Linked DNA regions of Homo sapiens: all the other regions are reported to be linked to region 1. The links are microRNA targets in miRTarBase. Many come from high-throughput screens and were not tested one by one. Region 1 holds a microRNA gene; each other region holds the end of a gene's coding sequence. Distances are between the middles of the regions.

Region 1 (5,812 bases):
AGGATGGTCTCGATCTCCTGACCTCGTGATCCGCCCGCCTTGGCCCCCCAAAGTGCTGGGATTACAGGCGTGAGCCACCGCGCCCGGCCTCAGTGCATATATTTTTAATATCTTGTAGTTACCCTGCTGTATACTGTCATCTTAGGGACCTTTTAAACAATACCAGTATGAGCGGGACCTACCCTGCTGCTCAGTGACCCCAGGCAGTGTGTCCTAAGGTGGTGTGTCCTGAGGCGTGCGACACTCTGTCCTGTCCCAGGCACTGTGGTGGGGGCATCCGGTGTCCAGGTGCAGAGGCAAAAGCTGCTCCCGGGTTTCCCAGAAATGGTTCCGAGGCCTGGGTCCCAGAGAGCCAGTGCAGGTTGGGGGGTGGACCTCTGGCTCTGTGGGGGGGTCTGTTCTGCTCCAGTGGGCCGTGTCTGCCTTGTCATCATCCAGACAGCCACAGCTGGCTCCTGGGTCCCCTCGTCAAGCAGCATTTCCCAGTAACAGTGACTTCGTGGAACACTTAGGAAGCCCTTAAAAACCATCCTCGGACCTCTGAGGCAGGGACTCCAGGGGGCACAGCACCTGTGGTGGGGACAGGCAGGCAGGCTGGATGCGGGGAGGGCCCGGGAGGAGGAGTGAGGAGCCACGCACGGAACTGCTCAGACTCTCCCAGCAAAGGTCCTGGCCCTTGTGCATGCCTTTAGTTACATGTCTGCCTTAGAGGCAAAGACGAGCCGTCACGGGGGACCCACCGGGTCAGGGGTCTGCGGACACGCTTGCAGGAGGAACCCAAGGAAAGGGGGTGGGGGTGGAGCCCCACAGATTGCGTCGTGGGTGGGCGTGGAGCTTGCACAGCAGGCCTGCTGCTGCCTCCCAGGGCGCTGGTTCACAGCACGGTCCCAGCAGGGAGAGGCTGAGCCGGTTGGACTAGACCACCCAAGGTCTCAGGTTGCAGCTCCCTGGTGAGGAGAGGACAAGGTGACTTCTGGGTGGGGTGGGGCATGAAGATGGAAGTCTGACCTCGGGTTCCAACTTGACTCAAACGAGCTGAGCTCCTGGAGTTTAGAAAGGGACACCAGCTTCAGACATCGTGGGGGCTGGCATGGTTTGCTCTCGTGGGCTGGATGGGAGCCTCCCTAGCCCCTCCTGATTTCAGGCTGCAGCCTATGGGTCACTCCAGGCACAGGTGGGGTGAGTCAAGATCTCACTGGAGGAGTCACTGAGCAAGAGGGCCGGTGGGAGGCAAGGGGGCATCCAGGGACAAGGGGCCAGCTCTGCCCCCACTTCCCCACCCCACCCACTCTAATACTGCAGCCCCTGTGCTTCCAACTGCCCCCTCCAGCCTGGGGCCCAGCCCCTCACCGCCAGAGACTGCCCGCCTCCTCTTGGGCAAGCTCCTGGTGGGCTCCACTGAAGCCAAAGTGGGCCCTTGGGGGCAGGAGAGCCAGAGCAAGGCACGCTCCACCTAGATTTAGACCGGGAGAGACCTGGAGGATGCCAACCCCAGAGGTCCTGGGGCGAGCTCAGTGCTGGGGACCGGAGGTGCCGTCTGCTGCCAGAATCATGGTGTGCGTGGTCCCTGCCCAGCACGGGTCAGCCAGAGCGAGCCAGGGCAGAAATGACGGCCAGGTCGATGTTCCTGTCGGGGGCTGCTTGTCCCAGGAGGTAATCTGAGTCCTGGCCGAGCCCAAAAAAGCCACTGCCCTTTAGAGCCAGCTGTGAGGGTGCAGGAGGCAGTGCAGAGGGAGTGGGACCCACAGCTGCTAGCCTCCCTCCAAACCCTCCTGCCTCCACCAGACACCAGGTCAGGGGGCCACAAGTGTGGGTGCCGGGCAGCTGCCCCTCAGCTGAGCTGCCGGGCCACCCAGCTCGTGTCCCTCCCCTGCCAGGCTGCAGCTGGGATGGTCACCCGGGCAGCCTGAGTCAGCCTGCTTTCTCTCTCAGGTGAGGCGGAACCAACCCTCCTGGCCATGGGAGGGGCCGTGGTGGACGAGGGCCCCACAGGCGTCAAGGCCCCTGACGGCGGCTGGGGCTGGGCCGTGCTCTTCGGCTGTTTCGTCATCACTGGCTTCTCCTACGCCTTCCCCAAGGCCGTCAGTGTCTTCTTCAAGGAGCTCATACAGGAGTTTGGGATCGGCTACAGCGACACAGCCTGGATCTCCTCCATCCTGCTGGCCATGCTCTACGGGACAGGTGAGGGTGGCCTCACACCGGGCCCCCTGTCCGGGGCTCTGCTGGCGGATCCTGCTGGGCGCGTGTAGCTGGGCTCAGCAACAGGGCCTTCCGCCTGCTCCCCAGGGAACCCTGGAGGGAAGCCCTTGGGGCCAGGATCCTGCTGGGCAGCAACATGCTCTCCACGGGGCCAACCCAGGCAGGGCGCGAAGTCCATCCTGGCCCCTGTCCAAACGGGTCGGCTGTATTTATAGACCGTCTCAGAGGACAGGCTCCTGAGAGCCGTTCCTGAAAAGGTGGCTGTTCCTGAGCTGCAGGGACCCAAGGGGCCCAGCAGGCGGCGCTCACGTGTCATCATGGCCTGCGCTCGGGGAGCCTGCCCACGGGGTGCCCCTGGTGCCCCGCGGGGGGAGGGGTGGTGTGGGAAGGGGAGGCCGGCTCCAGGCTGTGAGCTCAGTCGGCTGGCGGGGGTAGAGCTGGCTGCAGGCCCGGCCCCTCTCAGCTGCTGCCCTCTCCAGGTCCGCTCTGCAGTGTGTGCGTGAACCGCTTTGGCTGCCGGCCCGTCATGCTTGTGGGGGGTCTCTTTGCGTCGCTGGGCATGGTGGCTGCGTCCTTTTGCCGGAGCATCATCCAGGTCTACCTCACCACTGGGGTCATCACGGGTGAGTGGGGCCGGCCGGTGGGCCGCACGTGCCAGGAGGGGCAGGGGCCGTGCACTTCTGCTCCTGGGTCCAGGCCTCTGGAGGACAGCAGGGCGGGTGGCTGCGGGGTGTCCCGGCCCCACCTCGTTGTCCCCCTCTCGAGTGGGTGGGTGGCAGGGGCTCTGCACCCTGGGAGCCTGAGCCTGTGGGAACCTGGGGGCAGAGATGAGGGTCTCGGGCTTTGGGGCAGCCTTGGGGGGCTCTCACCACATTCCCTTTCCTCCAGGGTTGGGTTTGGCACTCAACTTCCAGCCCTCGCTCATCATGCTGAACCGCTACTTCAGCAAGCGGCGCCCCATGGCCAACGGGCTGGCGGCAGCAGGTAGCCCTGTCTTCCTGTGTGCCCTGAGCCCGCTGGGGCAGCTGCTGCAGGACCGCTACGGCTGGCGGGGCGGCTTCCTCATCCTGGGCGGCCTGCTGCTCAACTGCTGCGTGTGTGCCGCACTCATGAGGCCCCTGGTGGTCACGGCCCAGCCGGGCTCGGGGCCGCCGCGACCCTCCCGGCGCCTGCTAGACCTGAGCGTCTTCCGGGACCGCGGCTTTGTGCTTTACGCCGTGGCCGCCTCGGTCATGGTGCTGGGGCTCTTCGTCCCGCCCGTGTTCGTGGTGAGCTACGCCAAGGACCTGGGCGTGCCCGACACCAAGGCCGCCTTCCTGCTCACCATCCTGGGCTTCATTGACATCTTCGCGCGGCCGGCCGCGGGCTTCGTGGCGGGGCTTGGGAAGGTGCGGCCCTACTCCGTCTACCTCTTCAGCTTCTCCATGTTCTTCAACGGCCTCGCGGACCTGGCGGGTTCTACGGCGGGCGACTACGGCGGCCTCGTGGTCTTCTGCATCTTCTTTGGCATCTCCTACGGCATGGTGGGGGCCCTGCAGTTCGAGGTGCTCATGGCCATCGTGGGCACCCACAAGTTCTCCAGTGCCATTGGCCTGGTGCTGCTGATGGAGGCGGTGGCCGTGCTCGTCGGGCCCCCTTCGGGAGGTGAGCGCTGCGCCCCCAGGCAGTTCCCCACACCTGCCCTTCCCGTCAGACGCCCGCTTTGCGAGGGGGGGGACGCGCACCCCTCGGCAGCCACCCGCAGTGTGGGACTCAGAGCTGGAGGGGGTGCACTGTGCTGGACCAACCCTGATTCTGCTGGGGCTAGCGGGTCTCCATTAGGAGTGGGGTGCTCCGTCCGGCACAGTGTGTCCAGACAGGCAGGGTGGCTAGGGGCTGGGCCCGGGGGGGGGCAGCTCCTCCAGGCTCTGCCTGGGCACCACGCGGCAGCTCCAGGCAACCCAACAGCCGGCTTTTGCATTTTGGGGCCTCTCCTTTTTGAAGGATGACTGAGCTAACACGTGAGGGAAATTAAGTTCTGACTGGAGCAGCCTTGCCCAGGCTCCGCCTGCCTGGCGAGGGGGTCCTGGGCTTGGGGAGGGCTCATGTCTTGGAGTCCGCGGTGGCCAGGGCACAGGGCTGGTACTGAACACAGTAGGGCTTCTGGGGCTGCCGACTGGAAGCCTCAGGGGGACTCCGTGGGGACCAGCGTGACTCCTGCCACCAACCGAAACCCAAACTCCACAAAGCCATTGCTATTTTTAGCCTCTTAAGTCTTGGTTCCCCTGAGGAGGAGGGAGGATGCCCCCAGCTGAAACACATGGAGGGGAGAGAACACCTCCCAGCCCCACAAGCTCAGAGGCAGACAGGGTGACCCTTGCGTGCTGAGACACCGAGACACAGGCTTGGGTGGAGCCGTGGGCCCTGGGGGCAGCCCGCATGAGCGGCTGGGACTGACGGGGTCTTCCCGCAGGCAAACTCCTGGATGCGACCCACGTCTACATGTACGTGTTCATCCTGGCGGGGGCCGAGGTGCTCACCTCCTCCCTGATTTTGCTGCTGGGCAACTTCTTCTGCATTAGGAAGAAGCCCAAAGAGCCACAGCCTGAGGTGGCGGCCGCGGAGGAGGAGAAGCTCCACAAGCCTCCTGCAGACTCGGGGGTGGACTTGCGGGAGGTGGAGCATTTCCTGAAGGCTGAGCCTGAGAAAAACGGGGAGGTGGTTCACACCCCGGAAACAAGTGTCTGAGTGGCTGGGCGGGGCCGGCAGGCACAGGGAGGAGGTACAGAAGCCGGCAACGCTTGCTATTTATTTTACAAACTGGACTGGCTCAGGCAGGGCCACGGCTGGGCTCCAGCTGCCGGCCCAGCGGATCGTCGCCCGATCAGTGTTTTGAGGGGGAAGGTGGCGGGGTGGGAACCGTGTCATTCCAGAGTGGATCTGCGGTGAAGCCAAGCCGCAAGGTTACAAGGCATCCTCACCAGGGGCCCCGCCTGCTGCTCCCAGGTGGCCTGCGGCCACTGCTATGCTCAAGGACCTGGAAACCCATGCTTCGAGACAACGTGACTTTAATGGGAGGGTGGGTGGGCCGCAGACAGGCTGGCAGGGCAGGTGCTGCGTGGGGCCCTCTCCAGCCCGTCCTACCCTGGGCTCACATGGGGCCTGTGCCCACCCCTCTTGAGTGTCTTGGGGACAGCTCTTTCCACCCCTGGAAGATGGAAATAAACCTGCGTGTGGGTGGAGTGTTAGGACCAACGGTTTCCTAGGAGTATGTGGTTTTGCTGTGTGGCCTGTGTCCTGACTCGCACGTCTGCTGATGGCCTGGCTGTTCCTACCGTGGCTCTGTCCTCGCCAGCTTTCCCTGCAGCGGCATAGCATTCGTAGCAGGGGCAGGCGCTGCATGGAGGGGGCTGCGGGGCAGGTGCCTGGAGGCCGCTGTGCCAGGGTGGCCTCTGAAATGTGCCAGGGAGCCCCTACGTGGTGGTTAGATGGGAGCTGAGGTGGAACAAGCCACTTTATTCACTGCTGTGTTTAAGAAACAGGACCCTCCTGCCTTCCCTTTTTCGCCCCTCTGCCTGGCTGGCAGTGTGCGTGGTGTGGTCAGTGCCCAGGGCTGGTCTTTGCACCCTGTCCT
Region 2 (6,137 bases), not on the chromosome of region 1:
GCCAGATTTGGCATCTGATGAAGGCCCACTTCCTAGTTCCTAAGCCTCTGTCTTTTCTGTATAAACCTCACATGGTGGAAGGGGTGAGGGATCTCTCTGGGGCATGTTTTATAAAGGCATTAATCCCATTCATGAGGGCTCCACCCACAAGACCTAATCATCTCCCAAAAGCTCCGCCTCCAATACCATCACCTTATGGGTTAGGATTTCAGCATATGAATTTTGGATGTACATAAACATTCAGCTCTAACCTAGAACAGTTTCATCCTGAAACCATCCCCCTGCCCCTGGTCCATGGAAAAATTGTCTTCCACGAAACTGGCCCCTGGTGCCAAAAGGTTGGTAAAGTTTACATCATTGGCTCTTAAAACTTTTTTCCCCTAGGCTGGTGCAATGGGTCATTCCTACAATCCTAGCACTTTGGGAGGCCGAGGTGGGCAGACTGCTTTGAGCTCAGGAGTTCAAGACCAGCCTGGGCAACATGGTGAAACACCCATTTCTACAAAAAATAAAAAATAAAATAAAAAAAATTAGCTGGGTGTGGTGGCACACACCTGTAATCCTAGCTACTGGGGAGGCTGAGGCAGGAAGATCACTTGAACCCAAAAGGCAGAGGTTGCAGTGAGGCAAGATGGCACCACTGCACTCCAGCCTGGGTGACAGAGTGAGACCCTATCTCAAATTCCCCTAGGATCAAGAAAAAATAAGCTCAGCAGACAGAGCCAATCATGCATGAAGAAATCAGGGAATGTGATCTCAGGGTCATGAAGGTTCACAATGGATCAGTGGAGAAGATGGACTTAGGAATCTAGAATTTTTCTCTGAAAAAGCATACTAGCAAACCCCTAAGGAAAGAGAAAAATTCCAAGCCCACTTAGTGGCCATGAGTCTGTGTTGGTATCACCAGTCTGGGGTTACCAGCCTCACAGAGACAGAGTTTCCCAATTTGGTCCTAGATGGTGGGATCAGTTGTCCCAGCAGCTGAAGACTAAAAACAGCCCTGCCTTTCAGCCCTGGCTTTTAGATCCCAGGCACATTCTCCAGAACCCAGACCCACTGCTCATTTGCATTTGCTCTCCTTTAGTCATTGGTTGGATTGGAAAACGCTCTCCAGAGGTTTGTCCTTAGGGCCTCCCCCTTAGGCACTGGGACCCTGTCTGGAGGCCTACACCAGCCTCTTTCTAGCTTCTCAGAACTACTGGTTTTTTTTTTGCCATTACTTATTTCTGGTGTACACTTTTGGAGAAAGTTTTCCCTTTTAAGTTTTCTCTCTGATAATTTGATGTGTTTACTGCCTATCAGTTTAAATTGGTTGACTCTCTAGTCTCATTTAAGAGATTGTATATGGAAAAAAAAAGTTATAAAAAAAGGCATAATCTAAACCGGTAAGCCTAAAAAGTTTTTTTAAACCTATACTTAGGTTCTGTAAATTTTCATTTGTGATAGCTTTATTTTAATTTCTTTGTTTTATAACCAGGATTCAGCAGAAGGACTCTCCATGTTTACCGGAGAAGAGGAAATCTTTGCATTTCAGCGCACAATTTCCCGACTCACGGAAATGCAGACTGAACAGTACTGGAATGAAGGAGACAGAACCAAGAAGTAACTGCCACTTTTGCATAAATAAAACTCTAGACAAATGGTTAACGCAGGCAGAACTCCTTATTGTGGGACTTGAAGGAATCATTTTCTCATCATTAATTATGCACTTTGTCCTCTGGACCATTTTAATCTAAAATTGCTCTCAAGGATCTAGTGGATTAGTAAGTTAAACACTTAACATTTTTTAGGTCTGCTTTTTCTTATTTGGCCTTATTTCTGCACCATGAAATTAAAATCATCTCATTCCTGAAGATGAATGTAGGACCAGACATTTTAGCTTCACATTAAACCACCTGAATGAACCTTGAATGCACAAGTAAATGCAAGACGTCTGGATACCTTCAAGCTTTGGCTGCATGGTGGTGGCATGTTAGAAATACATCTTTTATAATGGGGGAAGAATGCCCTATGTTTCAATTCAAAACAAAGACAGTTTTCCAATCTGATATAAACTAAAAGGGATAATATTTTAGAATATGGGCTTATATGTGGTTTTTTTTTTTGGTTATGAATTACAGTAAATCTCCCAGGCCTTCAGATTTCTACATAATGGAAGAATATGTTTTTAACCCTGAGATCAAGTTTAGTAGGCAGGACTTGATCTCAAGTGGTCACAAAGTTTTCTAAAAAAAAATAGAAAATTATGATGGGATCAAATAAGGAGCAAGTGTCAAATTCCAGCCAACAGGCAGATCTGCAGGCAGAGCTACAAACTCTGCAGCCAGGAATGGGGACCAGTGAGAGAGTGTGGGCGGGGGGGTGGGTGTCAGAGTCGTAGGCACTCCAACAGCAGAGGAGACTCCCGCTCACATGAGGCCAGCCGTACCCCAGTGGACAGCAGGCTCCTTCTCACTGTTGTAGACACTTGCTCTCCTTGCAGCATGCTGCCCCCGCCCTTGCCGCCAACTCTGCCGTGAGATGGACCTAATAGGAAATAGGAAAGAAAGCCTGACAAGCCTGCTTCACAGGAAATCTGATTTGTCCTTCACTGAGCTCATCTTTTGCTTCTTTGAGTAAAACCTGGCTTTACTAACTATTGTCACAAAGTGGATCTTCGGCTGTGGATGAGTGTGAAAAACAGAAAAAATATAAAATCCACAAAATCTTGTGAAAATTAAGCATTTGGGGGAAGGTAAGGCATAGGTGAGTCAGTCCAATGAATACAATGGTCAACATAAGTAAGCTCTTTGAACCTATTTATTTTCTATTTATTATTATTTTTATTTTTTATATCTTGGCCACTCTAGCCATCTCCTGGCAGGGGTAGTGTGGCACAGCATGGCCCTATTTAATTTCTTAGTCAATAATCCATCACATAGTCTCTTTTAGATATTAACCTAATTAAGGCAAGCAGGTAGATGGATGAGTACCCAAGCCGAGAGAAGAGTTTAAATCAAGCCTTCTGTAAATAAAATGTGGTTTAAAGATATTTTTATTGAAGTGAAACACAGTAATTTCAAAGAGGTTACGTAATAGGGAGAAAGGATGGGAAATAACCACTTTGTGCTGGATTGAATGCTATATATTTACATTAGCTCAGTTAAAAAAAATAGTCTTAGAAAGTGAATATTATAACCCCTGTTTAAAAATAAGAAAACTGAGTCTTGGGAAAGTTAAGTAGCTTGACCTGAGATTCACAGTTTACAACTACAAAACTCATATACTATATTTTATAACACACTGTCTCTTACTCTTACTATTTAAAAAAAAGAGATTGTTTTAAAAATTGATTCATTTAACTCAGTGAATGAAGTTGAAGATAAATTCACAACAGAACCATTGATTTGAACTCAGTGAATATAAAATGTTTAACTTTATTCTTTAGATCTTAGCTTTTTACTTTTCACATTCCTTTGGTAATTATTCTGTATCTTAATTTTTAAAAAAATCATGTGAATGGACAGACAGATAGATGGACAGTATGACCGATAGACAGACCTGTCCCTGAGTGTGAGTGTATGTAGAAGAGTCCCCCTGTCAAGTTATGTTATAAAAGTTCATCTGAGGTCAGATATTGGGAATAAAGTTTCATTTTTCCATCGAAACAATCACGTAATGTTAGTTGGGGTGCTGGTCAAACGCATAGAAGCCTATGTAATTCTCAGTGTAGCTTCCCTATAATGTCATTTTGGTACGAAAGAACTTAAACCCTGAGAAAAAAACTGTAGCTCAGTCTCCACCTAAGTAACTGGAGCATGTGCCCACTTCTGTGCCCCCAATCCGCAATCTCCTTCCCCAGTTCCAGGGGCCTGCTGGGATTGGCTGCAGTGGAAGAGGCTCTTTGAGCTGGGAGAAGGGTTTATGCAGAAAGTGGGGCTAGAAGGCTTTGGCTGGATCTCTGGAGGGGAGGGAGTTCCATGGTGGCTGGAAATCTCCAAAGCTGGTTTCATAAAATAGCATGCAAGAAAAAAACCCAAGTCTTCAAGAATAGCCATCACTAGGAAACAGTATGGTAGCTCTACTAAAAGAAAAGTAATGCCAACATGAAAAACAACCCCTAGATTGGAGAGCAACATTTCACTTTATATGTCTTTCTTCTGAGCCCTGCCCCTATTACATTCTCAGCATTCCAGTCTTTCTCCATAGAAGTCTCTCAGCAAATGCTCTTTTTTTGAAATGCTTTAAATGTATACTTTGAGACGGAGGTTTGAGCTGAGTACTGCTGTGGAAAGCTCCTGCTCAATTCAAAACACAGACCGGGGGGATGTCTTTAGAGTCAGGAGAAAACATCATGTGCCAAGGGTGCTCTCCAAACTGATGACTAGTTCCCAGACTTAACAGAGGTCAAGCGGAGAAAAAGGAAAACTTTCTTTAGAGAAGAAAAAGAAAAATCTTATCACTTCTCATATTTCTTTAGGCAGTGTATGAGCTTATTTGCTGATATCACTAATCCTGAGATGAAAAACAGGATGGACTTAAGTAATTTTTAACCTATTTCTGAGGCCAAAAAGACTGTAGTATTATTTTAATCAAATTTATGCATTTTCAGTGGGACTTCAAATTTTAATAATAAGGCAATACTTTTATCTTCTTAAAGTATATTTCCTGTACTTATAAGTGTGCAAATGACATAATTTTAAAATTAGTTGGAATATTGAAAAAAATTAAAATTTCACTTGTAAAATAAGTGGATGTGCTTATATCCATTTATTTATTTAAGAAACACATGATGTTTTCTGTGTCCTGGGCATGGTTCTATGTGCTTTATAAATAAACTCTTTTGATCCATATAACAGTCTTATGAGATAGGTGCCATTATAATCATTTTATAGACAGGGAAGCTGAGACACAGAAAACAGCTAAAACAGATTAATGAATTGCTAAGATATAACCGAAGTCAATAAAATTAGCAAAGTGCTAACGTATTAAATTTTCCATTTCATTGCCTCTGTCCTGAAAACAGTATTGCTGGTCCAAGTAACTTGAACCTACACTTGACGGCTGCTTTATCTGAGATTAAAAACATGCAGAAGGATTGGGCGCCTGGGTCCCTGACATTTGGGTTCTTGATCAGTTACGGGAATCTGTCTTGCAGCAAGTCTGTAAGTTACCTTTATTAGATTTACTAATCTCAAAAGAAGTCACTTGCTGGTAGGAAAGGATTTTCTTTGGAAATGAGTTTATAACTTCTTTTACAGTCAGAATTAAGATGAATGTTCCCTATTGGCATATAGCAGTTCATTTTTCTGGAACAGAAAATTACAAATGTTAAAATCTGCCCTCTTGTCGAGTGTCTACTGACTCAGTCCAGCAGCTCACTAGGACCCTCACATCTGTTGCCCTAGCTGGTCATTCGGTCCAGTCAAACATGCCTGTCCACTGACCTTTCGTCTGTGCTGCATGGAGCCATCAGTCTGTCTTACCTGCTTGCCTAGGGGGCTTTCTGGATGTCGTCCCGAGAATTTTCCTGTCTCAGGGCTGTACTTTCTGGGTTCCCGGTGGTTGATTGCTGGTCTCTAATGATGCAGTGGAAAGGGCTTGAGATCTGGCATTGGAAAATTCAGTTCTGCTAATTATTGTTTTGTGACCTCGACCAAGATAGTGCTCTGAGCCTCAGTTGTGTCATCTTATAAATGGGAATCATAATGCCCATTTCATAGAGTTACTATGAGGATTGTTGGTGAAAAGCGCTTTGCAAATGGCAAAGGATTAAACGAACATCAGTTGTTATTGATACTAATGATTATGATCATAAATCCTACTTTCTGCTTTGTGTTATAGCCTTTTGAGGAATGCAAAACAGAAGACACATTCCAACCCACTGGTTTCTAACAGAAGGGAAAAGATACGCATTAAATGGCTAGACACCAAGAGCACACGGGTCTGGCTTAATGAGATGCTGGAGAAGATTGTTAAATTCAAATCCATGTTTTCAGGATTAATACAGAAAATGAATTGTTGCTTGTTTGGTGAACATCAAAGATTTCCCAGAAAGAGGGCACCATCTTGTGGTCAGTAGGATGAACTGACAGGAGAAAAAAAAAAGGCCAGTGGTTCTCAAGGCTACACATTCCTAGGCCTAGGTCCACATCCAG
Region 3 (6,137 bases), not on the chromosome of region 1:
TAAAAGTCTGCCAGGATGTGGAAATTCTCATCACATCCTCCTAACATCTGTGAGGGGTAATATTATTCCTATTTTATAGATGAAGAAGCTGAGGCTCAACTGCTATATAAGCGTTAGCACAAATTCATGAAGCTTGCGTGGTGGAGCTAGAAACAAAGCTCAGTTTTAACCATAAGGTCATCTCCTTTGCTTAGAATTGAAATTTAAGCATTCTTCCAGATCTAGGTTGAGTTTTTAGGTAGTCTTCATGTTTTGTAACGGGCAAGTCTAAACCATGCCATTTTAGATGACCTCTCTTGTCAGGGGCTGCAGACCCATTTGGCCAGAATGAGTATGTTGTTTACTAATTACCATAAAAATTTGTCAGAAAGTTAGAGAACTCTTAAATAACAGCCCAAATGCCGGGGATGGGGTGGGGGTGGTCGGGGAGTAAGTTATGGACAAGCTTCAAGTACAGGTGGCCAAACAGTCAGAAGATGCAGCCTTAAAACAAGCAAAATTGAGGGCACGATTTTCTGTTCTTGTACCTGCTTCCCAAGCACCCTTTCTTCACATTTTATTTGATTCTCTCAACAATCCTATTATAGGAGGAAAACTGTCATAAAAAGAAAACTCTTAGCAGTTGTTTTAGTCCATTTTCACACTGCTGTAAAGACATACCCAAGACTGCGTAATTTATAAAAGGAGGTTTGACTCACAGTTCCACGACTGGGGAGGCCTCAGGAAACTTACAATCAAGGCTGAAGGCAAAGAGGCACGTCTTACGTGGCAGCAGGTGAGACAGATTGAATGAGTGAAGAGGGAAGAGCCCCTTATAAAACCACCAAATAGATCTCGTGAGAACTCACTATCACGAGAACAGCATGGGGGAAACTGCCCCCAACAATCCAATCATCTCCCACCAAGTTCCACCTGGTGATTATGGGGGTTATGGGGATTACAATTCAAGATGAGCTTTGAGTGGGGACACAGAGCCCAGCCATCTCAGCAATGATCCCAGGTCTATTGTTCTCTCCTTAAAACTCCACCTACCCTAAGAATCAAAGTAACCATTAAATAATTACATAATGACCTAGGAAAATATCCCATTACATGAAAAAAAAAAAAAAAACATCATGTACAGGATAATTCTATTTTTATGTAAAACAAAAAACAAGTATGTTTTATGCATATACAGACTTGTCAATAAGCAGAGGGAAGGTTTCAATAGCACACACCAAAGTAATGGTTCTCTCTCAGGTGTACAATCAAATGGACAGGAACATTTTCACTTTTTGCATCGATTCATTTTTTAGAGTGGTAATGTTATGGGTAATTTTCAGCTTGTTTCGGTATTAGCAAGATGTTACTTTCTCCACTTAGTGCCTCTAGGAATGCAGCCAAGACAGTCCTTGCATCTTGAGTTGGGAACATTACTTATCATTGTCTGAAGCTTCAAACAGATTCAAACTTCTGGAGGTGTGTAGTAGAGTCCTAAGTTGCAAGCCTGAGATGCCCAAGGTTCTTTTTGATGGTTTCCTATCTATCACACAGGACTGCCATGAGTATGGAGAGTACTAACATACGTATGGAGGTGCCTTATTGAGCTATGCAAAGGCTGTGACTTCCCTCCCCTAAGCCCTTTCATGTGTATCTCTAGGCAGTTTGGACCTATTCAGCTGATACATTTGGCTGCAGATTTCACGATCCTAAAAGGATATAAAAGTTGTATTTCACTGAGTACATTAAGGGCAGCTCAATTCCTCGGTCTAACTTCCAGCAAAATGTAAATCTGAAAGACAGGAGTTCCTAGGATCTAAGACTTCAGTAGAGAAGGTAAGGGAGCAATTCTCTGTGCTGCCTGGGAAACCCCCAATCTAGCTTTGACAGGAACCAATAACTGGAAGACTCCCCAAAGTCGCATTCTCTTTATGGCAGAGGCTCCCAACAGAATCCAAGTACAATAGTCATTTGATGAGTAATCTCTGGCCAAGTGAGAAGATGGCTACCAGATGCACAGCAACTCAAGCTAATTTTCATCCTCACTCCACGACTATCACACGAATGGAAAAAACCTGAGATGCGCAGATCCATTCTGGTCAAGTTAGAGGAAAGGAGGGAATCCAGGACATGAATGTTTAGGCTAAAGCTTAAAAGTGTGAAATGGACTTAAATCCTGTAGAGAATTGTCTTCTTTGAGTAAAGCACTCTTTTCTGACAAGAAATGTAAGAAAGCCAATGGTCTAGATTTTATAACTTTTTAAAAGTAAGCTGTCTTTAATTTCAGAAAATCTGCTATTATACAACAAATTATTTTTTCATTCATAAAAAACAGTCCACAGCATTCATAAAACAGGGTGGCAGAAGAAATAAAAAGACACTTTTCAGGTGGATTCTTTAAGAACAGATAAGTTAGCAATTTAATACAGATGAAAACAAATACAATCCATATAAAAACAGAATCTGAATGGGAGTGGGAGCGAAGATGTATCAACCAAAGTAAATTCAGAGTTTTCACACATGCAACTCAACACCTGCATTCTCTTCGCTTAAAAAGCAAACTAAGGGCCGGGCGCGGTGGCTCACGCCTGTAATCCCAACACTTTGGGAGGCCAAGGCAGGCGGATCACAAGGTCAGGCGATTGAGACCATCCTGGCTAAAACGGTGAAACCCCATCTCTACTTAAAATAGAAAACATTAGCCGGGAATGGTGGCACGCACCTGTAGTCCCAGCTACTCAGGAGGCTGAGGCGGGAGAATCACTTGAACCCAGGAGGTGGAGGTTGCAGTGAGCCAAGATCGCACCACTGCACTCCAGCCTGGGTGACAGAGAGAGACTCCGTCTCAAAAAAGAAACAAACAAAACTAGGTACTTTAATCGGTGTTCACAAAGAAGACCACAAAAGTACTGAAAAAATGCTAGCCTTACATATACCACCAAAAAAAAAAAAAGAGAGAGAAAGAAATTAACAATCCCCATCTACAACTAGGCTAATCATAGGTTTTCCCTTATAGAGACAGACACAGAAAAGTAACTTTTTACAAGCTTAGTTTTGAGGTACAATGCCTTAGAGCTCTCAACTGGGGTGTTTCCTGCTCATGCTCTTTTCACTATAAACAAATGTGGTTTATGAAGTGGAATACATACTTGAAAAATTCCTTAAAAAAGAATCACAAGTTTCATTTTATATATACAACAAATTTTTAATTATGTACTGAAAATAAATTACAGGAAATAACTTTAAAATGCAACAGAGGACAAAGTCACAATAAACATTCCCATTGAATTCCCTTGGTGGGCGGGGGGGGGGTGAGATTGCAGTGCTCAAGATAAATATCACAAATATATCAAAAACTTCAAATTGTCTATGCATTCACACACTGACATGAGCCACAAACATTCCTTTCACAGGGACAGTACTTATTTAGCCTACCACAGGACCAGATTTTGCCATAAACTACAAAACTTTTAATACAAAATCGTATTTATATATTTATAAGTCATATACATGCCCTATCTGTGATTTTAGAAAATAAAAGCTACACACTGTACAGACACTCTTAACTCATAGCTGTAGGCAACATTTTTGGATGGAATTTCTTCCCCAATAAAATTAATGGCATATTTTATATACATGAAGGCTAAACTGCAAAAAGACAGTTCAGTTTCCCAGATATGCATCTCCTTTTAGGGCAAGTTTATAAATTTAAAAAGGCAAGACAAATGTACACCTCAGAATTACTTTCTTAGCTACAAGAGTTGCCATGTAATTTCTGTGAAGTTTCTGATACATGCATTGATGTAATACTGGTATTGAAGGCAGTAAAGCAATATATACTTTTAATGTAGTGGCTCAATAAAGGCTTCATTGTCTTTCCAATCTGGTTCTTGAAACAGTGATTCATAAATTCTCTAAAAATTAAAATTTCAATGGGACACTGTGTTAAAGAGACTCTAAATAGATTTCTGAAAATATTTCCCTGAAATATCCTTTTACATAAGACAAATTCACTAACATTAGATTAAGTAAAAAGAAATAAAAGAGTTAAACATGGCACAAAGGTGCATGATTAACCAATGCTCCTCAGTCCATCTGCATGTCTTAGGAGCCATTAAAAGAATGCTTAAAACTAACAAACAATCTTCACACTCTGTGGCAGCCATCTGTGAAGCCAGTTACACTAAACTACTTCTACAGTTGATTGTAAACTTTGGTTTATTTTTATTTGAGTTCTCATTGTACAGCAAGCATGAAAAAAAAAGAGAGTGGAGTCCGTGAGGAGATGAACTGTCAGTCTGTCTTTAATCTGGCATGATGAGACACCTGGTCAGTCAGGCCTGCTTTGATAGAGTTTGTTACAGACTGCCTTATGTTTTCCTCCATCAAATTATCACCCAGGGGCTTCAATACCTGTGGTATGAGAAATGTGCAAAACAAACAAAAACATGAGGTAAAAAAAGAGTTACATATAAAAATAGATATAAAAATTCAATTCAAAGCAATGATGAAAATAACCAGGAATATGGGAAATAAAAAGATGCTTCTCTCAAAAAAACTTATGATGCTACTAGACATTTTATAATGCAACAAAAATTACTTTCCTCTTATTCAAACCATTTACAATTCCTATGAGATGGATGTGCAATTCCATACCCTATATGCAGCATCAAATCTGGTATGTATACAGCATTTATGCAGACCGGCCCAGACGGTCCTGCTTATTGTCCTACATGTGTAAGTGTGAACACTTCAGATAGAGAAAAAGGTTAAAAATACTGTCTAATTTTTCTTCTTGTTATTGTTGGATGACAGTCTCTGTCGCTGTGCTGATGAAAGAGCACGGTGAACCATTCGACGTCTAGTAACTTCAAACAGTTTGGAAAACACCTAAAACATGAAGTGATTTGTTAGGAGAATGAATCAGAGTGCCTCGAAGCTAAAGAGTTTAAGACTACAAGAATTTGAGACTGTAGGTTTCTCACCTTCCTGGGACTCCTCTGAAGCAAAAGAAAAGAGAAATGCAAAGAAATTTAGACAAGGTTTGTTGACACAGCACAGATCTCTGACTAGCTGATTACCTTACCTAAACTATACTGAAAATGATTTTATACACTTTAGATTCTTCCATTTAATTGTTTTGTAATAATGGTACCTCCAAAATCCTAGAATCAATGCTGTTTAAGAGATGAATATTTCTCAAAAGAAGATATTGTACAATTATTGAAAATTATATTGCAGAAAATGATCCAAAATTTTAAAATAGCTAATTTTTTCTTAAAAGTGAAGTTGCGATAGCTTTGCATCCATCTTCTATTAGAAGATATCAAAGAAACATCAAGTAGTGAGATTGAGATAAAAATTTAAATAGAATAAATATCCAAACATAAACTTCCCAATCGGATCTGAATAGAGCATTTCTCTAAAGAGTAAACACAAAATCCAAATTAATATAGTGGGTCACTTTATAAAATAACATCATTACAAGAAAAGTCAATATCCAATCAACTTTCTTCAAAAAAAATGGTCTGCTTCTTCGGTCTTCAAGTTTATAGCCAAAACAAACATGGACCTGCATATCCTAGATCTTCAAAATAAGCTCAATATTTCATGAGCCCAAAAATGGCATCTCAAATGCCTATTATAGCGTTCGTCATTAATAACCGTAGCTTTCATTCTGGTCCTTGACATGATGTTCAAGTATTTCACGAAGATCATCTTAATGACATCCATAAGCGGTCCACAGGTAATTCCAGCACACCGGAGGCAGATACACAAAATGGCTTTCCTTAGCAGATACTTGCAGGCAAGAGTTCACAGCCTGGGGCTTTGAATTCTGGTTCGAGGTAAAAGATTACGACGGAGCATGGTTCTCTGTTCATGGCGCTTTGCTTTACTAATTAATATTTCCAAAACACAAAGGTCAAAGTTTCCTTGGTAAGAAATCCCTACGGGATTGTTCCTCATAGTACATCAGGAAATCACTACCATCTTCATGGAAGGCAATGAAGACCTGTCTACCATCCAGCATTTCTCCTGCATTGCTGCTTGCCAATATTAGGAAGAAACTTCTTTTGCTTTCCGAAAGCACCACTTCCAAACTTCTTTTCCTTACCTTGAAAATCATTCATTGTTTATATTTTCTTTCCTCAAAGAAA
Region 4 (6,137 bases), not on the chromosome of region 1:
AGCTGAGGAACTCCAACCGGGTTCCACAGGCGAGTCCGCTCCCCGTGGGCCTTGTCAAGGGGGTCGCCCTCCCCCATCTGAGCCGCCCAAGGCAGAGCTCAGGAGGAAACGTGGCTGGGGGCGTTTGTCCTGCAGGAAGGGCCATGCGGCTGCGCTGCTCCCCCAGGCCCTGACCCCACTCTTCCCGCAGAGGAACAGCTCGCTGCCCGACGAGAACAATGTGGCGCAGCTGCAGGAGGAGCTGAAGGCGCTCAAGGTGCGGGAAGGCCAGGCGGTGGCCTCGACGCGAGAGCTTAAACTGCAGCTGCAGGAGCTCTCGGACACCTGGCAGGTGAGGGCCGGGTGGGCGCCGGCGGGCAGAGCGCCCCCTAGGGCCATCCCCTCGGGGTTCTTGGGCGGAGGCTGACCGCCGGCTTCTCGGCTTCACCCCCCAGGCCCATCTGGCCCGCGGCGGCCGCTGGAAGGAGTCCCCACGGAAGCTGGTCGTGGGCGAGCTGCAGGACGAGCTGATGAGCGTGCGTCTGCGCGAGGCCCAGGCCCTGGCCGAGGGCCGCGAGCTGCGGCAGCGCGTGGTGGAACTTGAGACGCAGGTGGACTCGGGGGGCCTGCTCGTTGGGGAAGGGGCGTGGTGTCCGTGGCCAGCCCCTGAGTTAGGCCCTGACCGCCGCCGTCCTCCGTCCTCCCTTCCTCCCTATCCCAGGACCACATCCACCGCAACCTTCTGAACCGCGTGGAGGCGGAGCGCGCGGCGCTGCAGGAGAAGCTGCAGTACCTGGCTGCACAGAACAAGGGGCTGCAGACGCAGCTCAGCGAAAGCCGCCGCAAGCAGGCCGAGGCCGAGTGCAAGGTGCAGACCCCCGCGGCCCCGCCCTGCCCGTGGCACCGCCCCCGGACGCGCCCCTACATGAGGCCCCGCCCCCAATCCGCCTCTGCCGGCGTCCTGCCTCCCGATCTGCCCCTGCCCGCGGTCCTCCCGCCCCCGCCCGCGGCCCCGCCTCCTGACCTGCTCCTGCCCGCGACCCCGCCTCCTGATCCGGCCCCGCCTCCTGACCACCCCCCCCCGCGGTCCCGCCTCCTGATCCGCCCCCGCCCGCGGCCACGCCTCCTGACCCGCCCCCGCCCGCACCTCCCTTGCCCGCGGTCCCGCCCCTGCCCGCGGTCCTGCCTCCTGACCCGCCTCCGCCCGCGGCCCCGCCTCCTCATTCGCCCCTGCCCGCGGTCCCGCCCCCTGATGCGCCGCGCCCCCTGACCCGCCCTCCTTTCCCCCCAATCCCCCGACCCCAGAGCAAGGAGGAGGTGATGGCTGTGCGACTGCGGGAGGCGGACAGCATGGCTGCGGTGGCCGAGATGCGGCAGCGCATTGCCGAGCTGGAGATCCAGGTGATCGGCGGGGCCGGGGTCGGGGGGCGGGGGCGGGGGCAGGGCCCGGGGCAGGAGCGGGGCCGGACCCCAGGCCCAGCATGGCACTGGCCCCGCGTGACCTGGCGCACCCCGCAGAGGGAGGAAGGCCGCATCCAGGGCCAGCTGAACCACTCGGACTCATCGCAGTACATCCGCGAGCTCAAGGACCAGATCGAGGAGCTGAAGGCCGAGGTGAGCCGGCGCGGGGATGCCGGGGACAGGCCTGGGTGTCGTCGGCCTGGGACGAGCCGAGCGCAGGTGCCTTGCGGAGGATGCGGCTGGGAGGGCGGGGCAGAAGGCCGGTCCACGCCTGCAGCGCCGGTCCCCCGCCCCAGGTGCGGCTGCTGAAGGGCCCGCCGCCCTTCGAGGACCCGCTGGCTTTCGATGGGCTGAGCCTGGCGCGGCACTTGGACGAGGACTCGCTGCCGTCGTCGGACGAGGAGCTACTTGGCGTAGGCGTGGGCGCTGCCCTGCAGGACGCATTGTACCCTCTGTCCCCGCGCGATGCGCGCTTCTTCCGCCGTCTGGAGCGGCCGGCCAAGGACAGCGAGGGCAGCTCAGACAGCGACGCCGATGAGCTGGCCGCGCCCTACAGCCAGGGTCTGGACAACTGAGGCCATGCCCAGCGCGCCCGGAGTCAGGAGGCCGCAGCCGCGGGGGGCGCCCGGGCAGTCCGCGTTCTGCTCCCCACCTGCCGCACTTGACAAACTACGCGCCCTCTGTGGCTCGGCCACCCCTAAAGCGAGGCCCGGCGAGGCAGCGCAGAGGGTAGGGTCCGACCTGGGCTCCTCAGGGCCCCGGGGCAGGCTCTCTATCCCCAGCAGTGTTTACCCATCTTGGTCTGTACCCCTCCGGGCCCTCTGGCGTTCCAGGGGTGCCTGGAGGGGCTGACTGCTCTCTTAACAGGAGGGCAGAGGGCAGGGGACAGACGACCCAGAGGTCCCAGCACTGAATGAGCAGGCAGCTCCCACCTCCTGGCAGGCTTCCTTCTGGGACAGGGGCGACATTGCTGGGAAGTGCTCAGGAGGTAGCCGAGGCCTGAGGAAGGAGAGCGCCAGCTCTGGGCTGGACATCAGCACCCCACAACACTCCTCGGGATGAAGTGACCCTTGACTAGCCCCTGGCCATCTCTAGGGGAGTCAGGCCGCTGGGGACAGATGGCCAGGCCGGCCTCTCCTGCCTGGCGCAGGCACCGTGGCCCCTGCAGCGGAAACCAAAGTCCCCCTACTATGTGCGGGGCGCCTGGGGACTGAGTGGCTAACGGGAAGCCTCCCTGCTTCTCTGGGGCCAGAGCAGCTTCCAGGAAGTGAAGAGACCCCTCTCCCCAGTGCCCCACATCTTTCTCTGGGAGACACTCGCGCCCCCTATCCTGGCCAGTGATGGAGGGGTATCTCTACAGGGGTCCTCGGTCTCCATCTACTTCCCTTTCTTCATGTGTTTCCAGCCCCACCCTCAGCCAGAGCCAGGCCCCCAGGCAGGAGCTTCCCAGCGAGCGGCCTCCCCTCACTTCCTCCTGGTGGTCCCGTTGTCTCTGCTGAATCAGAGCTGAGAACGGTGCCAAAATCCAACGATGCCCCCCAGGCCCCTTCCTCCCTTCCCCCGGCCCCCCGGGCCTCATGACCCTGGGGGCTGCCCCCCTCGGTGCTCCCGGAGCCTCCAGTAGAGTAGCGTCACAAGCAATCTCCCTGGCGCTTCCTGGGTGGGGACCCCTGCTCCGTCCCCGCTTCCTAGCTGCCCACTTTTCAGTGTTACGAAGCCTGGGGACCGGGGCAGGCACCCACGGGGCTCTCCACACGCCCCCTACACTGCCCGCCACCATTTTGCACACTGCCTGTTCACATGTCGCCCAGGCGGGAAAAATGGAAAATAAAGTGTATTTACACAGTCACGGACTGGCCTGCGGGCTGGGAGGAGAATCACAAGCAGCGGTGGGTGCCCAGCCCAGGGACCAAAAACCGTGCTGAGGGAAGGTGGGGCTGTCCTTGCCCTTAGGAGCTCCCCACAGTCTCATAGAATGGGGGTGGGAGAGGATAGAAGGGCATTCAGTTTGGGGGCAGGGCATGATTTCCCACCTGGGTGAATCAACTTGGGCCTCCCCTGAAGGAGAGAGGCATGCCGAATCGCTGGGCTTCAGGAAGCACAGGACCCGGTTGCATTCATTCTGCTCACGCCTCCAGGGGTAATGTGGGGTACTCTGCCCTGTGCCTGGCTCTGAGGGGGTCTCCAGTGGAGCAGAGGAGACAGGCACTGGGCAGGGGGAAGCCTGCACTAATGTGGTAGGTGCTCAATAGACAAATGTGCAGGGAGATCAGGGAAGGCTTCCTGGGGGAGGTGGTGTCAGGGCCTCTTCGAGGGGTAAAAGCATAAAGATCAGACCAACAGGAGGCATACCATACCTAGGAAGGAAGAACAGGAAAGCCTGGGCGTGGTCAGACTAAGAAGGGACTGCTTACGTCAGGTGAGGGAGTTTGGGCTTTGAACTGGGGGCCATTGGGAGCCCATGGAGGGCTTAGGTAAGAGAGCCCCATCAGATGGACCACAGAGTCTGTGAGGGGGCCAGTGCAGGGAGGACAGTGAGTAGGGGGCAGAAATAGTCCTTTGTGGGGTTCCCCACAGAGCTGAGGCAGAGTCCCAGCTGCTGGGTGGCGGTGGGTGGCGGGGTGGAGGACAGAGCCAGGAGTGGCAAAGCAAAGCTTCCTAGAGGAACTCAAGGCAGTCGACTCACTGAAACGTCCATCTCCTGGGTTCCAGTGATTCCCCTGCCTCAGCCTCGAGAGTAGCTGAAACTGTAGGCACCTACGACCGTGCCTGGCTAATTTGTTTCGTTTTGTTTTTTGAGAGGGAGTCTCACTCTGTCACCCAGGCTGGAGTGCAGTGGCACGATCTCGGCTAACTGCAACCTCTGCCTGCTGGTTTCAAGTGATTCTCCTGCCTCAGCCTCCTGAGTAGCTGGGACTACCGGCGCCTGCCACCACATCTGGCTAATTTTTTTTTTTTTAGACGGAGTTTCACTCTTGTTGCCCAGGCTGGAGTGCGATGGTGCGATTTTGGCTCACTGCAACCTCTGCCTCCCAGGTTCAAGCAATTCTCCTGCTTCACCCTCCCAAGTAGCTGGGATTACAGACATGTGCCACCACACCTGGCTAATTTTGTATTATTTTTAGTAAAGATGGGGTTTCACCATGTTGGCCAGGATAGTTTTGAACCCCTGACCTCAGGTGATCCACCCGCCTCCCAAAGTGCTGGGATTACAGGCATGAGCCACTGTGCCCGGCCCAATTTTTGTATTTTTTTTTTTAAGTAGAGACTGGGTTTCACCATATTGGCCAGGCTGGTCTCAAACTCCTGACCTCAGGTGATCTGCCCTCCTCGGCCTCCCAAAGTGCTGGGATTACAGGCGGGAGACACGGTGCGCAGCCCCTAGAGGCAGAAACATAATTGGGTTCAGGCAGATGCTAGCCAGGACCTGCCCTCTGCACCCAGTGTGGGTCCACAAAGTGCTCCCTACCCCCATGCCTCACAGCCAAGCAAAGGACATGACACTGCTTGTGTACTGAGACAGCCAAGTCCCATGTACTGTCGTATCACATGCCACAGCTCTCCTGGCCACACATGGTGCAGATGTAACCCTGGGGACCCTCACAGTCACTGTCCGTGCCTCCTGCTTCCATGGTAATTCCACCCCCGCTGGCTGCCCAGGTCAGGGCAGGACCGCAGAGGAATTGTCTGAGGTTCTGCCCTGTCCTTCCCGGCAGCTGGCCTTGAGCCCCAGCTCCCCAGCATGTCAGGAGTCGGCCTTGGGCTTGTCCCAGAGTCTGGAAACAAAGACACCCAGGTCCCCAACCCCACCAGGGCCCAGCTTGAGAGGACACCTCTATGGTTTGCCACAAAACTCTGACCGAAGGACTGTGCTGGCGTCCTCCTCCTCCACCTCCCAGGGGTGCAGGTGGCAGTGCCCCTCCAGGCCAGAGCCCATTTCTCCTCAGACCCCAGGCTAGGAGGTGCCTTGTCTGGGATGGGGACAGGCAGGACTTGCTGGTCTGTGACTGACAGGAACCTGGTCACAGGATGGTGTGAGGGTACTGGGTCCAGGGGCAGAGGCAGGGCTGAGGGCCCAAGGCCAGATCCTACTCTGTCTTCTTACCCACTTGGGGATGTCACCATCATTCTTGGTGCCATGCAGGAGACCCGGGGGAGGAAAGGCCTAGCAGGGGAGCTCTCTGCAGGGGCACTGGGAACAGGGAGAGACTGGCTAGGGTTTGAGAGGCTCCAGAGCTGGGGGTTAGGGTTAGGGTTCATTGGGGGAGGAAGGGCAGGAAACTCTGATTGGAGGGGGCCTGTGAAGATGTTTGGGAATCTGATAAGGACGCCTGAGGAAGGGGTTAGGGCAAGGATGCCATGGGGGTGGGATGCACCAAGTGGCACTTGTGTAAGGACACTTGGAGACAGGGTGCAGTGTGAGGACTCCCCCATCTCCCACCTAGACCTGGGAGAGGCCACTTCTTCCTGCAATCCCCTACCAGGGCAGTTGGCCCGGGACCCTGCACCAGCCGAAGGGCCATGGGAAGGGGTCCCCCATCCTTGCCTCAGTGCCCTCCAATCTTCCCACCTGTTCCCCAGGAGTGCTAGTTCCCCGCATCGAGTTTGAAAAGTGTGTCAGGCCAGGCGCGGTGGCTCACGCCTGTAATCCCAGGACTTTGGGAGGCTGAGGGCAGATCACCTGAGGTCAGGAGTTC
Region 5 (4,000 bases), 6.4 Mb from region 1:
CCCGGTGGGGACTTGCAAGGGCTTTCCTGTAGGGTCTGGGGCTTCCCCGCCACATCGCGGCCCTCCAGCCTGGCCTAACACTTGGGGAGCCCCAGCATGCGGAGTGCCCAGAGTGCAGACCTCCCCTGCCTCCCATGGTGATGGGGGCTCAGCAGCGACATCTCTACTCCCGCCTCCCTGCCTCCAGCCCTGGCTGCAATGTCTCTACCACATCCCAGCACCAGGGGGAGCAAACCCTGCCCCTGCCCGCCTCTCAGAAAAGCTGCTGTGGTGGGCAGGGGATTGGGCCATCTGTCTCCTGGCCCTGGCCCATCTGCCTCCTGGCCTTCCTGTTCCAGCCACTGGGGTGGGGGCCAGGTTCACTGGGACCAGGGCTACAGGCACAGAGTCTCCTGGAAAAGGGAGAGGGGACCCTGCCAAAGATGAGGCTCCAGCTGCCCTGGGGGGAGGGTGGTGGCCATTACTAGAGGGGGCCTGGGTCCTCTCCCCAGGGGCTGCCAGCATCCAGGCCAGGAAGCCTGGAGCCAAGAACCTTCTGGCTCTGAGGGAGCAAGAGCTGGCAGGCGGCAGGGCTGGCACAGACAGACGGAAGCAGAAAGGACAGTTTGGCTGCTGTGTCTGCTGCGCACGCCCCCTCCCCGGACAGCACCTGCCACCTAGAAACTTTCTTAGCAAAAAAATTAATAAAAACAAATCCATTGTCCTCTTAAAATATGCCTTTGGCCTACAGTGGGGCCTGGAATGCGAGCCAGGCCGGGTAGCTTCCTCCCCAGCCCTCAGGGGACTTTGAGCTACCGCCACCTTGGGGTAGCTACAAAGCAGGGGGGTAGGTGTGGAAATAACTGAGGCAGAGGCAGGGCTAGGGTGATTTTTGGCCGTGGGCTTTGAATAAATTGCTTTACCAGGCATACCAGTTCCTGTGGTGACACCCAGGACAGGGACCCGTTCCTCGGGGGAGCACAGTGAGCAGGGGCCTCCCAGGGGTGCAGGTTGAGGCTGAGGGGCTGCTCTTGAGACAGTAGGGCGTAGAGGAGCTGGGTCCCTCCCCTGCCTGGGGGGTGTCAGAACCTGAGGCCTGGTCATCACGTCATCCTAGCTGTGTGACCCTGGTTCCATGTCGGAACCTCTGAGTCTGCACAAAATGAGGACAGGAGTCGAGGTTAGCTGAGATGACATCCAAGGCCCGAGACCATGCAAAGAGGATCCCACCAGGGTGTTTTCTCACCCCCCACCGCACAGCCTAGTTGAGGAGGTGGGAGGGAGGACGTACCTCTTAGGCCTCAGCCCCTCATCCCTCAGGGGCAGGGTAGGGTGAAGAAGGCAGAAGGCAGGACTTCCTCTGGGTCCTACCAGCAAATCATCCCAATGGGAAGGCACTGGGTTTTTTGTTTTTGTGATGGAGTCTCACTCTGTCGCCCAGCTGGAGTGCAATGGGGCAATCTCAGCTCACTGCAACCTCTGCGTCCCGGGTTCAAAGGATCCTCCTGCCTCAGCCTCCTGAGTAGCTGGAACTACAGGCATGTGCCACCACACCTGGCTAATTTTTGTATTTTTTTTTTTTTTAGTAGAGACGGGGTTTCACCATTTTGGCCAGGCTGGTCTCGAACTCCTGACCTCAAGTGATCTGCCCGCCTCGGCCTGTTTTTGTTTTTGAGATGGGATCTCACTCTGTCACCCAAGCTGGAGGCAGCTGTGCAATCATGGCTCACTGCCGCCTCGACCTCCTGGGCTCAAGTGATCCTCCCACCTCAGCCTCCCTAGTAGCTGGGACCACAGGCATGCGCCACCATGCCCAGTTGGGAAGACACTGTTCCTCTGAGAAACAGTTACGGGCCCTATTGCCAGTCACCGCTGACCACACAGCCCTAAAGAGTCCTAGGGCCTGGGGGGCCTCTGTGTCCAAGGCTAAGGGTCCCTGTGTCATCAACCGCTAGGCCTAGGTCGGAGAGCACTTGAACTGTCTTGGGGCCTGATGGGCCCAGGAAGTTTCCAGCCCTCTCCAGCTGCCTTACCACAGCTCAGGGGTGTGGGCAGCAGCCGTTTCCATGGCTGAGGCAAGGCTCCTGGCCCACCTCATAGTTCAGAGGCCCTCTTTTGGGACCCACTCCCCCTCACCCCCATGTAAACAAGCTACCACTGCAAGTTCATATTTTATTTCCAATAGGTTTGGAGCTTTGTTGATTTTTGCATTTTTGTAAAAAAGGAAAAAGTTTTCACTTAATTCATTGAAAGCCCTTTCGTGCTGAGCCCAAGGGGGAGCCTGGGCCAGGACCAGACCCTCTCAGCCCTCTTGTTCCTACCGCAGACACCCGGTGCTGGGGGTGCGGCTGCTCCCCTCCGCCCACTCTGCCCTCCCGCCCCTGCTGCATCTCTCTCTGTACAGAACAATTTTTAAAATGGAAGCTAAGACACAATATACACTGGACAGGCACACACACACGCACACAGGCGTCCGCCCAGAACAGGGCGGGACACCAGCTGCACTCAGAGAGCACCAAGGAATGCAAACGGAGCCCCTCCGGGTAGGAGGGCAGGGCCTGGGCCCCCTTGGTCCTCAGTCCTCAGTCCGCACTCCTCCCCGCCAATTGCCCTGCTAGCTGCCAGAGAGGGGAGGGGGCAGGGAGAGCTGGGGGCAGCTGGTTGGGGGCGGTGGTCATAGAATGAGTACCAGCCTGGTAGGCGGCCCTGGGGCCAGGGAGGCTCTTGTGGGGAGTCCGGGGAGGGGCGGCGGGGGGAAGGACTGAGGGTGGACCCTCAGGAACCTGAGGGCTGGAACTCCTGGGCCTTGCCCCTCAAGGAGCTTCAAGGGCCCAGGTGTCAGGAGTGGGGCTGGCCCTGCAGCACTGGCCTCCAGCCCTTGCTGTTCTCCCCAAGACTAAATTAACATTTGGTAAACTTAGGAGCTAAGCCAGCTGAGACCCCCAGCACTCCCCCTCGGGCCTCCCTGAGGCCCTCACAGCTGGGGGCCAGGCCTGCTCTGGGGGACCCACGTCTTCCACACTCCACCCTTGCCCTGGCAAGGAGGTAGGGGGAGCAGGGCCTGCCCTGAGGGCTTCTCCCTTCCCCTTAGTGCCTTCCAGTCCCACCCTTCCCTGCTCAGGCCCCAGGAAGAAGTTAAAAATAGTTAGTTCCTACATTAAAAAAGAGACAGAACCAGATTCTCTGCCAAAAGGCCAGTGGGAGAAGAGGGGATGTCATCTCTGCAGTGGGAAGGGCAGGGAGTGGGTAGGGGAGGACTGCAAAATAGTTTCTTCTTTTAAAAAGTGCTTGGTAAGTCTTTTAAAGTGTGTGTCTATATCTATGTACAGATATACACACAGACACTGTCCACACCACCACGCATACCTGCACACATACGGAAATGTATACATATACATACATACGGAAATGTATACATATACATAATCATATACATATACATACATACATACACATATATATATATATTCATATATATATATATACTTTAAAAAGTCCTAGGTGAGAAGATCTGGGCCAGGCTGGGCCAGGCCTGCAGGGTCACGACTGGAGGGTGTGGGCCCGGCCAGGCTGGCAGATGGGGCACTCGCTGCCCTCAGCGCAGAGCTCACACAGCGCAGCGTGTTGGCACGGCAGCACTGCCCGCTTCTGTTCCTGACACTTAAGGCATTTCACCGACTGCATGTGGAACACGGCCTGCAGGGAAAGGGGCATCGTGGTCACCATCCATGGGTCTGGCCCCAAGTTGAGCGAGGAGTTCCCTTGATCCTCACTGCAGCCCCTTGGGATGGGAAAACTGAGGTACCGAGCTCAACAGTGTGCTCCCAGACCCCTGTTGGCAGGTGAGAGAGCAGGCTGAGTCCACCTCTGCATGGGGCATGGCCAGGCTGCCACAAGACCCACCCCTCAGAGAGGCTTCGCCCAGTCTCATTTGACCTTGTAATCCCCAGATGGGGAAAATGAGGCCCAGAAAGGGCTGGGACATGCCCAGGGCCACACCCGGGGGCTTGGCTGCCCGAGA

The links. The annotated mature microRNA hsa-miR-6787-5p reads UGGCGGGGGUAGAGCUGGCUGC and lies in region 1 at 2,623-2,644, shown strand. An mRNA with a match to its seed (bases 2 to 7 or 8) in the 3' UTR can be bound and repressed. Matches are read on the target gene's strand: a 7mer-m8 pairs with bases 2 to 8, a 7mer-A1 pairs with bases 2 to 7 and ends in A, and an 8mer does both.
Region 2: miRTarBase lists AFG1L as a target of hsa-miR-6787-5p. Seed matches in the 3' UTR shown: 7mer-m8 at 2,491-2,497.
Region 3: miRTarBase lists ATL2 as a target of hsa-miR-6787-5p. Seed matches in the 3' UTR shown: 7mer-m8 at 3,279-3,285.
Region 4: miRTarBase lists EVI5L as a target of hsa-miR-6787-5p. Seed matches in the 3' UTR shown: 7mer-A1 at 3,210-3,216.
Region 5: the mRNA of UNK is a reported target of hsa-miR-6787-5p. Seed matches in the 3' UTR shown: 7mer-m8 at 2,727-2,733.

Annotation. Positions count from the first base shown.
Region 1 is chr17:82,234,051-82,239,862 of GRCh38, forward strand. It overlaps MIR6787 (microRNA 6787), which reads left to right and starts at 2,618; the gene lies at 2,618-2,678. SLC16A3 (solute carrier family 16 member 3) reads left to right here. Exons shown (of 5, transcript NM_004207.4): 2 at 1,933-2,181; 3 at 2,679-2,822; 4 at 3,088-3,843; 5 at 4,652-5,812. The coding sequence starts at 1,959. The coding sequence ends at 4,926. It also overlaps a transcript of CSNK1D not described here. RefSeq lists enhancers at 2,195-2,384, 3,209-3,980, 4,751-5,521.
Region 2 is chr6:108,520,820-108,526,956 of GRCh38, forward strand. AFG1L (AFG1 like ATPase) reads left to right here. Exons shown (of 13, transcript NM_145315.5): 13 at 1,478-5,182. The coding sequence ends at 1,606. Among named protein-coding and RNA genes, the nearest start is that of FOXO3, 37 kb to the right of the region's middle.
Region 3 is chr2:38,291,722-38,297,858 of GRCh38, forward strand. It overlaps ATL2 (atlastin GTPase 2), which reads right to left. Exons shown (of 13, transcript NM_001135673.4): 13 at 2,233-4,392. The coding sequence ends at 4,273. Among named protein-coding and RNA genes, the nearest start is that of ATL2, 82 kb to the right of the region's middle.
Region 4 is chr19:7,861,688-7,867,824 of GRCh38, forward strand. It overlaps EVI5L (ecotropic viral integration site 5 like), which reads left to right. Exons shown (of 20, transcript NM_001159944.3): 15 at 191-331; 16 at 435-590; 17 at 701-847; 18 at 1,285-1,380; 19 at 1,498-1,593; 20 at 1,737-3,289. The coding sequence ends at 2,015. Among named protein-coding and RNA genes, the nearest start is that of PRR36, 9.6 kb to the right of the region's middle. RefSeq lists enhancers at 1-337, 338-975, 2,070-2,778 and silencers at 798-1,067, 4,776-5,070.
Region 5 is chr17:75,823,937-75,827,936 of GRCh38, reverse strand. UNK (unk zinc finger) reads right to left here. Exons shown (of 16, transcript NM_001080419.3): 16 at 2,138-3,675. The coding sequence ends at 3,520. UNC13D (unc-13 homolog D) reads left to right here. Exons shown (of 32, transcript NM_199242.3): 32 at 1-712. Among named protein-coding and RNA genes, the nearest start is that of UNC13D, 18 kb to the left of the region's middle.